Regions from separate parts of the Homo sapiens genome. Here regions 1 and 2 are each reported to be linked to region 3. The links are microRNA targets in miRTarBase. Many come from high-throughput screens and were not tested one by one. Region 3 holds a microRNA gene; each other region holds the end of a gene's coding sequence.
What was found. Region 3 holds the annotated microRNA hsa-miR-6784-5p (GCCGGGGCUUUGGGUGAGGG, at 1,987-2,006, shown strand). A microRNA usually pairs through its seed, bases 2 to 8, with sites in the 3' UTR of a target mRNA and lowers its output. Matches are read on the target gene's strand: a 7mer-m8 pairs with bases 2 to 8, a 7mer-A1 pairs with bases 2 to 7 and ends in A, and an 8mer does both.

Region 1: the mRNA of HPCAL1 is a reported target of hsa-miR-6784-5p. Seed matches in the 3' UTR shown: 7mer-m8 at 2,765-2,771 and 7mer-m8 at 2,532-2,538.
Region 2: miRTarBase lists UBQLNL as a target of hsa-miR-6784-5p. Seed matches in the 3' UTR shown: 7mer-A1 at 873-879.

Annotation. Positions count from the first base shown.
Region 1 is chr2:10,426,443-10,429,693 of GRCh38, reverse strand. It overlaps HPCAL1 (hippocalcin like 1), which reads right to left. Exons shown (of 5, transcript NM_002149.4): 5 at 2,090-2,970. The coding sequence ends at 2,873. Among named protein-coding and RNA genes, the nearest start is that of SNORA80B, 19 kb to the left of the region's middle.
Region 2 is chr11:5,512,428-5,515,645 of GRCh38, reverse strand. UBQLNL (ubiquilin like) reads left to right here. Exons shown (of 1, transcript NM_145053.5): 1 at 1-1,253. The coding sequence ends at 632. Among named protein-coding and RNA genes, the nearest start is that of UBQLNL, 2.7 kb to the left of the region's middle.
Region 3 is chr17:45,113,172-45,116,414 of GRCh38, reverse strand. It overlaps MIR6784 (microRNA 6784), which reads left to right and starts at 1,982; the gene lies at 1,982-2,048. It overlaps PLCD3 (phospholipase C delta 3), which reads left to right. Exons shown (of 15, transcript NM_133373.5): 9 at 925-1,071; 10 at 1,171-1,321; 11 at 2,049-2,165; 12 at 2,810-2,976; 13 at 3,158-3,243. RefSeq lists enhancers at 1,023-1,888, 2,755-3,243.

The DNA of each region.
Region 1 (3,251 bases), not on the chromosome of region 3:
ACCCACCCAACCATTCACCCATCCATCCATCCATCCATCCACCCACCCACCCACCCACCCATGCATGCATCCACCCACCCACCCAACCATTCACCCACCCATCCACCCATCCATCCATCCACCCACCCACCCAACCATCCATCCACCCATCCATCCATCCATCCAGCCACCCATTCATCCATCAACCGATCCACCTAGGGACCCATCCACCCACCCACCCATCCACCCATACTCCCATCCATCCATCTACCCACCGACCCATCCATCGACCCACCCATCCACCTATCGATCCACCCACCGACCCACCCATTCACCAACCCATCCACCCAGCCATCCATCCACCCATCCATGCATCCACCTGTCTATGCATCCACCCACCCATCCATTCACCCACCCATCCCCTCACCCACTCATCCATACATCCATCCATCCATCCATCCACCCACCCACCCACCCATCCATCCACCCACCCCTCCCATCCATGCATGTCTCCTATCAGTTCTGTTCCTGGAGAACCCTGACTAATGTAGTGGTCACTCCCATCTGTTTCTGTTGGACTCTGTCCCCATCATAAGTGAGCCCTCCCCACAACAAGCACTCTTGATTTAACCTTTGCCAGTCCCAGTTAAATGTTTATAAAATTCAAGCCGTTCACTGGCTGTTCTTCCAGGTGAGGCAGTGTTGCCAAAGGCACCGTCTTGCCTCTTTGTAGCAAGCTAGATCTGCCCAGGGCACCTGGCCTCCATCTCGCACCCCACCTGGTTCCCCCATCAAGGCTTGGTGGCTCTGGGTGCATGGAGAGTTTTACTATGAAATAGCTCTAGCAGTGCCATTGACTCAGAAGGCACTTGGCAAACAGACTCACCATTTCTATTAAAAGAGACATGGAGTCTTAAAAAATATTAAAATGACTAAAATCAACAAATTAGCTGCTGTTGCTGAAGGCCTGCTGGGAGGCAGGTTCCAAGCCATGCGCTTTGCATATGTGACCTTGAGCCACCCAGCTCCCCCCATCCCCTACAGTGAAGACACTGAGGCACAGAGGAGCCGACAGCAGCAGGCAGGTGGGCAGACGCCGTAGTGCCCGTCCTGGTAATAGAACCTCCATTCCACTCACCCCTTCCCAACCCTATGCCCTCTGGGGGAGGCAGATGCCACCTTGGCCAAGGGCCATCTTGACCAGCGTAAGCCAGCCGTGGCCATGACATGGTCATCTTGTGAACACAGGCCATGGTTTCAGCCATGAGATGTGGGGCTGGTGGGGACGGGGTGGTGGGCAGATTCTGGAGGGTTTTCCTGTCCCTCAGTGGGAGGACAGAGGCTTCTCTCCCTGCCTCTTGATGCTCCCATGTCAGCTGTACTGCCCAGAACCACAACAGCAGTTGTAGGCACCCCAGGAAGACAAGCCTGAGGTGAAAAGCTGACTGTGATTAGGAGGCGCAGTGCTGTTCACCCGAGGTCCCAGCTACTCAGGAGGCTGATGCGAAAGGATTGCTGGAGCCCAGGAGGTTGAGGCCAGCCTGGGCAACATAGAGAGACACTCTCTCTTAAAAAAAGAAAAAAAAAAAGACAAGCTGATGCCTGGGGATCCCCAGCGATGCTGCCTTTGGATCCCTTGGCAGGCGAGACCAACCAACCCCCACTTCTTCAGCTGGGCCTTCTGCTGCTGGGACCAGAAGCACTGACGGCAGCGGCGAAGGCTGGATGGAGAACCAGGCCTGCCACCTCTGGGTCCAGCCTGACTGCACCCTTGGCTATGCCCGTCCTCTCTTGGAATGTGGCTTTCCTACGACCTGAAACCGTGGAAGGAGAAGGAGAGGGAAGGGCTGGGGGGAGGCAGAAGCCTGACCGTCAGATCTGCCAAGAACAGTCATCGTTTATTTCCACGAGTATTTCTTGGCATTAGGCAGATATTGAAGAACAGGCTGTGCAAGATTTATAAACGCGGGGACAGCTGGAGGGACGTAAGAGGGGCCGGATTTACCAACAGCGGTGGCACGCAGCACACCCGCCTTGCCTGGAGAGTGCAGGGGCCACGGCCTGAGGAATGGGGGCTCCCGCGGGCAGACGCAAAACTCAGAAAATGCCATTTATTTTATCATTTTAATACCGGAAATGCCAGACCAATCAACAGGGAGGACAGACCAGACACAAATGCCTGTGCTCACAACACGGATGGGAGGATCATCACGGCTCAGGGCACACATGCATTTCCTTAGAAACAGGCAGACAAAGAGAGCATAAATACCACACAACAGCCAGGCTCAGGGGGCTGCGGGCCACAGAGGGCTGCGCTTCAAAGGCAGTCAGAGGCATTAAATACGGGACCTACACAATACACTCCACTTCACCATACATAATTTATATATTAAAAGAAAGGGGACCACAGTATCTATACGTGCAAGCGGCTGTGGTGGAGAAAATGAACGGGGGGGCAGCCATGCACGGGAGGGGCTCCCTGTATACCCTCCCGACGCCTCGTCCCCACCCTTCCCACAGAGTCACTTGGGATCACAAAACGCATGGGCCGGCCGGGGCGCAGCCTCGGGAGGTCCTGCCTGGTCTCCTCGGCATGGACCTCTGAGCTCCCCGTGAGCCGGGAGGTGCCTGGAACCAAGAACACTTGAACCCTGCATGTCACCACATCCCTGGGAGTTGCCCTGGAAGGGACCGGGCCAGGCGTGAGGGGAGGAATGTCGCGTTGGTCAGGTGGAGGAGGGAGGCGCAGCCACCGGGCTGGGCAGGTGCAACGCATGCCCCAGGCCCGGGGCCCGGGAGAGCAGGAACGATTGCGGGGCATCCACTCTTGCAAGCAAAGCTTAAACGGCACGACAAGCCTGTGTTTCTCTGCAACTGTCCAGGGGCCGCTCGCTCAGAACTGACTGGCACTGCTGGGGTCGCACTGCAGCAGGCGGACGATGGAGGGGTCGCTCTTGGCACCTCTGATGAATTCTTCCAAGGACAGTTTGCCTGCAGGGGACCAGAGACAATGGGATTAGCCAGTGCTCACTGTTCTTTATGCTTCCAGAGAGGATGGGGACAGCTCTCAGGTCAGGTATGCTCCCTTTGTTGAAAGTCCTGAGCCTTCTTGAAGCTGGACGGTGTCTAGTCTCCATTCACTTTACAGGCATTTCTGAAAAAAAATCCTTTTTCCTTTCCCTGCTCCCTGCAATACATCAGGTACCTCAAAGGGCTTACCCAGCAAGCTCAGCAGGACGTGGCTGATGAGGGCCATTTAAATCCTTTTAGAA
Region 2 (3,218 bases), not on the chromosome of region 3:
GGAATAATGCCCTGGGTCAGAACTATGCTGATATCAATGATCAAATGCTGAACAGCATGCAAGATCCTTTTGGAGGAAACCCTTTCACAGCTCTCCTGGCAGGACAAGTGCTAGAACAAGTCCAGTCTTCACCCCCACCTCCACCACCATCACAGGAACAACAAGACCAGCTCACACAGCATCCTGCAACCCGAGTCATCTATAATAGCTCTGGTGGTTTCTCTTCAAACACCTCAGCCAATGACACCCTTAACAAGGTCAACCACACTTCCAAAGCCAACACTGCTATGATTTCCACCAAGGGCCAGAGCCATATCTGTGCCACTCGGCAGCCAGCTTGGATACCAGCCTTACCTAGCATAGAGCTTACCCAGCAGCTTCAAGAAGAATACAAGGATGCCACTGTTTCTCTAAGTAGCTCCAGACAGACATTAAAGGGTGATCTCCAGCTGTCAGATGAGCAGAGCAGCTCCCAGATCACAGGAGGCATGATGCAGTTGCTTATGAACAACCCCTACCTGGCAGCTCAGATTATGTTGTTCACAAGTATGCCCCAGCTGAGTGAACAGTGGAGGCAGCAGCTGCCCACATTCCTGCAGCAGACACAGATTTCTGATCTGCTTAGTGCTTAGGCAACCCTAAAGCATTCCAAGCAATATTGCAGATTGAGCAGGCCCTCCAGCTGCTGGCCACAGAGGCTCCTGTTCTTCTGCCTTGGGTTGCACCCTACCTATGGGGCCTGGGTTGGCTTCCTGCCCCCAGCTGCAGCTATCCTGACACAGTGCCCTGTTCCTGGAATGTTTCAGATACAGCTGAGCCCAAGGGACCTGAGTGCTGCCACAAGCCTGGAACAGTCCTGCAGAGGCTACAATCCCCGGATGGGGACCCTTCCCACCCTCTGCAAGCTCCTGAGATTTGTTTTAGCAAACAGATGGATTCTCTCCAGGCCATGGGATTTGGGAACCACCATGCCAATCTACAGGCACTCATTGCTACTGAAGGGGACACCAATGCTGCTATCCGCAAGCTCAAGAGATCCCAGAGATTCTAACCACCATGCCTACTTGTTTGCTTGCTACCTGCCTGCTGACCCACCTGACCATCTCATTTGCCTTTTGCACCTTTCCTGATGCTTCCAGCCAGGAGAAGTCCTGGAATAAGAGTTATCAACCAATGTGTCTTGTACTGAATAATAGATCATTGGTCGTGGCTGAAACATCTGTCAATAAAATGGCTACACTCACTTGCTGCGATCTGAGGTTTGGCTTTACTTCTTTTGCAAAAAAAAAAAGAAAAAACTAGCTGTGTGAGATTTTTGTCTCACCTACTATATGTACATTAACACACAAACCACATGCATATATTAATATAGAGATAAAAATAATGTTTTTATCTCTAAAACATGAGCATTTTGAGCATGGTATATGAAACTTGAGCATGGTATATGAAACTGATTATTTTGAGCATGTCACCTTGGACAGGTGTGTGTATGTACACAAGCTCACATAGTAAAAAATTCACATATACAGGCATATAGAGTCCACATATGAGTACACACAGCCATGTGCAAACACAGATGCAAATACCTAGAGACACATAAATAGACCCATATGTAGGGAAAACAATCATAACATGCTCAAACAGAAAGGGAAACATTTTACATAGATAGGCCCAGATATTTAGTCATAAAGACTGCCTGAATTTCTCAAACCCAAATTGTTCAAGTTTGAAAGTGGAACAGGAATAATATGAGGGCCAGAGTAGGGTGAATTCACATATTAACCAAGTCCGGATGAATAGTTATCATCATTGGAACCTCCTGCTCGTTGATTTTGCCACCATTATAAGATGGTGATGGGCTGTCTCTACTGTCTCTTTAGCACACAGAGATGCAGCTGCTGCCATCTCCACTGTATATCCCAGTCACCACAAATCCAGCCCTCCATGGGGCACAGCACCTTCCAAGAATATCACCTCCTTCAGTATATCTATCTTATGTTTGTAGTTTACATTTTCCATGGTTGCCAATGCCCCACCTTTTTCTCTTTCTGCCTCACCTAGAGTATCCCACCATGGCAGGATATGCAATTATTTGTGTTTTAATGATTCCATGATTAAATAATTTAAAACACTTTTACCATAATAATTCAATGTTGTTTTAGGCATTGAAAAAAATAGCAGTGAAAAAAACAAAGATCCTTTATTTATTGACTTTACTTTCTTTTGTGGAGATACAAGTTATGTTAAGTGGTAAGTGCTGTGAAGAAAAATGAATCAGAATAAGATATTCTACATAGGGTGATGAGGGAAGGCCTCTCTGAAAAGGTGACATTTGAGCAGAAGTCAGAAGTAACTACGAGAACTGAACATGCAATTCACTGGGAGAAGGAAGATCCAGGGGCTGTCTGAAAGTAAAAGGCCCAAGGTAGCAGTATTCCTGCTATGTTTTAAGAATAACAAGGAGGTGATGTAGCTGAAATGGACAAAAAGGAGCGGGGAATGGGGAGGAAGTCAGAGAGATTGTGAAAAGTTTTATAGGTCTGGTGAAAACTTTGGATTTTACTGTGAATGTAATAGTCACTGGTGAGTTTTGAGCAAATAAATCAAATAATTCAATTTATCAGTCTGGCTTCAGAGTGGAGAATGGACTGTGGTAGAGGAAAACCAGGGAAGCAGGGAAACCAGTTAGGAGGCTTTTATGATAGAGCAGTTGAGAAACAGTAGTTTCTTGCAGTAGGGTGGGAGCAGGGGAGGTGTTGAGGAGTAGATTCTGGACTCTAAAGGGGACCCATCCACAGAGATTTGTGTGCTCAACAGACCACCCCTTCTGAGCCCCAACATGGCCATCGGTAAGAGTGAAGGGCGGGCCTACAAACTTCCAAGTGTTTCTAGAAAGCTCACTGCCAAAGACCCCTACTTCATGTCTACACCTACCAAAAAGATAAGTCTCAATAAATAAATTACAGTGAAAATGGATTTTTTACCTCCCCATTTAATATGATTAAGCTTCATACCCTCTTTGCTACAGCTTGCATAAAAAGCTCAGGCTATCCAGGTCATCTTTTTTATTTTCATCACAATATGCTCTGAAAATTCCTCACTTGACTCATTTTTCTACTCGTCACCAGTTTTCCAGCCTCTTCATCCTACCATTTAGAAGTCATAATTTAGCAATAGAAAAGCCCACATATCTACAACCTTCTTCCTAAGGATGACTA
Region 3 (3,243 bases):
CCTCTTCTGTAACCTGGCTTTGCCCTGCTGGCCCTGTGTCCCTGCCCGTAGAGTCCTGCAGGCTCTGCCATTCCCACCTGCAAGGCCCCGCTTGACACTTTCTCCACCTGGAAGTCCCTTCTCGGCCATCCACACTTGCCAAGCGTCACCTGCTTAGAATTCAGCTCAACTTCAGCCGCCTCTTCCTGTGGCCTTATCCACTTCCCCAACTCTCGGGCCTGAGGCGGCCTCCTGCTCTCCCCCAGACACCAGAGCGCGTCCTCGGCTCTCTCCAGACATTTATCCTGTCGGGCTCCTTGAGAAAACTCTCCTCCTACTTCCAATCCCCAACATGCAGGCAGGGTTGACTCACCCTCGTGTGTGTGTGAGATGTGATTTTTGTTATTACTGTGAAAATCACACCCGTATGGTAAAAGAAAACTGAGCTGTACTAAGGGACGCGATGAGCAGTGCTCCCCTCCCTCCACTGACCTGTCCTCTTTCACAAGAAGTAACCATCTCTAACTTTCTTGCATGTCCTTCAAGAATTTCCCCACACACATTACCTGTGTACATATGTGTACTGTCTTCTCTTTTAAATGGTACCAAAAAAGGACATGTGATTCCAGGTTGTAGCCTCACTTCTTCCACGTAAGATCTTCTTTGAAGAGGGTCCCTTTCCTTTCAGTCCTGAGCTGTCGCGTGCATTGTAGTGGCTGCTGTGTATATTCTGATGTTGAGGGACCTTATTAAGCATCCCTTCCTGATGGCCTCCCGGGCCATTCTCCACTCTTTCCTATTAGAAACATCGCTCATCTCTGTGTCTCCTTTCCTGCCTCCCACCCCTAGCCAGCCCCTCACAAGGCGGTGGTTGAATAACTGACTGACTGGCTGCCACAGGGGCGAGAAGGCCTAACCCTTCATCCTCCACGTTGGCCCCCACAGCAGCTGAAGGGCCGGGTCCTGGTGAAGGGAAAGAAGTTGCCCGCTGCTCGGAGCGAGGATGGCCGGGCTCTGTCGGATCGGGAGGAGGAGGAGGAGGATGACGAGGAGGAAGAAGAGGAGGTGGAGGCTGCAGCGCAGAGGCGGCTGGTGAGAGCTGGGATGGGTGGGGTGGGGAAGGGGGGGAAGGTGGGAGGACGGATGTGGGAAGCGGGGGCCAGCTGAACCCCGCTGAGCCTGGTCTCCTAGGCCAAGCAGATCTCCCCGGAGCTGTCGGCCCTGGCTGTGTACTGCCACGCCACCCGCCTGCGGACCCTGCACCCTGCCCCCAACGCCCCACAACCCTGCCAGGTCAGCTCCCTCAGCGAGCGCAAAGCCAAGAAACTCATTCGGGAGGCAGGTAGGAGCTGGGGCACTGGGTGTCTGGGGGCGAGAGGGTGAGAGACCTCCTGAAGGGAGTCTGGAAAGGAGTTGAGGGGGCTTTGGGGGACAGTAAAGAGGTCAAGAGGACCCCAAAGAGGGGCTGGGCTGAGGGAATGAGGGCCCCGCACATGCCAGGGTGGATGGAGGGGAGTGGCACGCTGAGGGCGGCCTGCTGTCTGCCTTCAGAGCCCTGTGGTGGGGCCGGCCATAGAGGGTGATGGGTCAGGCTGGGCTGGGGGCTGGGGGAGCCCAGCAGCTGCTGCAACACTGGGGAGGAATTCCTGGGGCAGGTGATGCTGAGAGGACACATCACCTGGAGGACTAGGAAGCAGCCAGGTGAAGAGGGGAGAGCGCTTTCCAGACAGGAGGAACAGGTTGTTGAAGGCCTGGGGCCTTGGCCTGGAGAAGAATTCCAGGAACCACAGTGGAGCTGGAGGGCCGTGGGCATTCAGTGTACTTGGTTGGAACTTTGTCAGGAGCTGGGAATTGGGGGCTGGGGATGCAGGGCCAGGCTGTGTGGCTGGAGGGGGTCCCTGCAGCCTCCTCAGTGAGCTCCCCTCTCACTCTAGGTCAGAAGAGAGTGAGGAGCGGGGGCAGGGTGACCTGGGGACGGGCTTGGGCTCTGTTCCCTGGAGGTTACAGGCCGGGGCTTTGGGTGAGGGACCCCCGGAGTCTGTCACGGTCTCACCCCAACTCTGCCCCAGGGAACAGCTTTGTCAGGCACAATGCCCGCCAGCTGACCCGCGTGTACCCGCTGGGGCTGCGGATGAACTCAGCCAACTACAGTCCCCAGGAGATGTGGAACTCGGGCTGTCAGCTGGGTAAGTGGGGGCCACAGGAATGAGAGCAGGCGGGGTGCCACAGTGTGGGGGAGGCCTCAGCAGTGAGGGGCCCACACAGCCTTCCAGACGGTGGAAACACGCATTTTGTTGATTATTTTTAAAGTTGCCAGCAATGTAGGTGGGAAAATCAAATCAGGCTCGTTTGTTCTTGACAGTGTACAGGTCTCGCATTTTTATCATGGTAGAAATTAAAATCTCCACTCCCATGTCCCCCGGACACACACAACCCCCACACACCTGGCAGTCCCACTAAGTCAACACTGACAAGGGTGGGCTCTGGGGGACGCTGAGCCCCACCAAAGGAGGGCTGTATCGTCTCCTTGGGGTAAGGATGGAAACCCCAGGCTTCCTCAGACCCCTGGCTCTGACCCAAGCCTGGCCCTGAGGGTGGGGGCTTTTTTAGTACCTCCCACCCCAGTCTTGAGGGATCCCAGGGCAGAAGTACAGGTGACAGTGGGGGCTGGGTCCATGACCCCCTCCCCTAAAGTCATGGTGGGAGCAGAGCAGCACTAAGCAGACAGTGGGACCCCAGGCCCTTTGTAGAGAGGAATGCAGTCCCCTGAAACTGAGTAGTGAGAACAGGGCCGCTAAGAGCCCCTGCTCTGACCCTGCTGTGTCCACAGTGGCCTTGAACTTCCAGACGCCAGGCTACGAGATGGACCTCAATGCCGGGCGCTTCCTAGTCAATGGGCAGTGTGGCTACGTCCTAAAACCTGCCTGCCTGCGGCAACCTGACTCGACCTTTGACCCCGAGTACCCAGGACCTCCCAGAACCACTCTCAGCATCCAGGTCAGCAGGCTGGAACGGGCCCCAGTGTGGGGTCAGACTGGTTCTAGAAAGGCTCTTTGTGAGGTGGAGGAAGGCAAGGGAGGCTGGGGACATTTGGAAGTGAGGGTGGTGTGAGCTTGAGGCCCATGAGGGGATGGCCAAGGTGGGCGTGGGCCCCAGCCACTCCCTCCCTCACCCACAGGTGCTGACTGCACAGCAGCTGCCCAAGCTGAATGCCGAGAAGCCACACTCCATTGTGGACCCCCTGGTGCGCATTGAGATCCATGG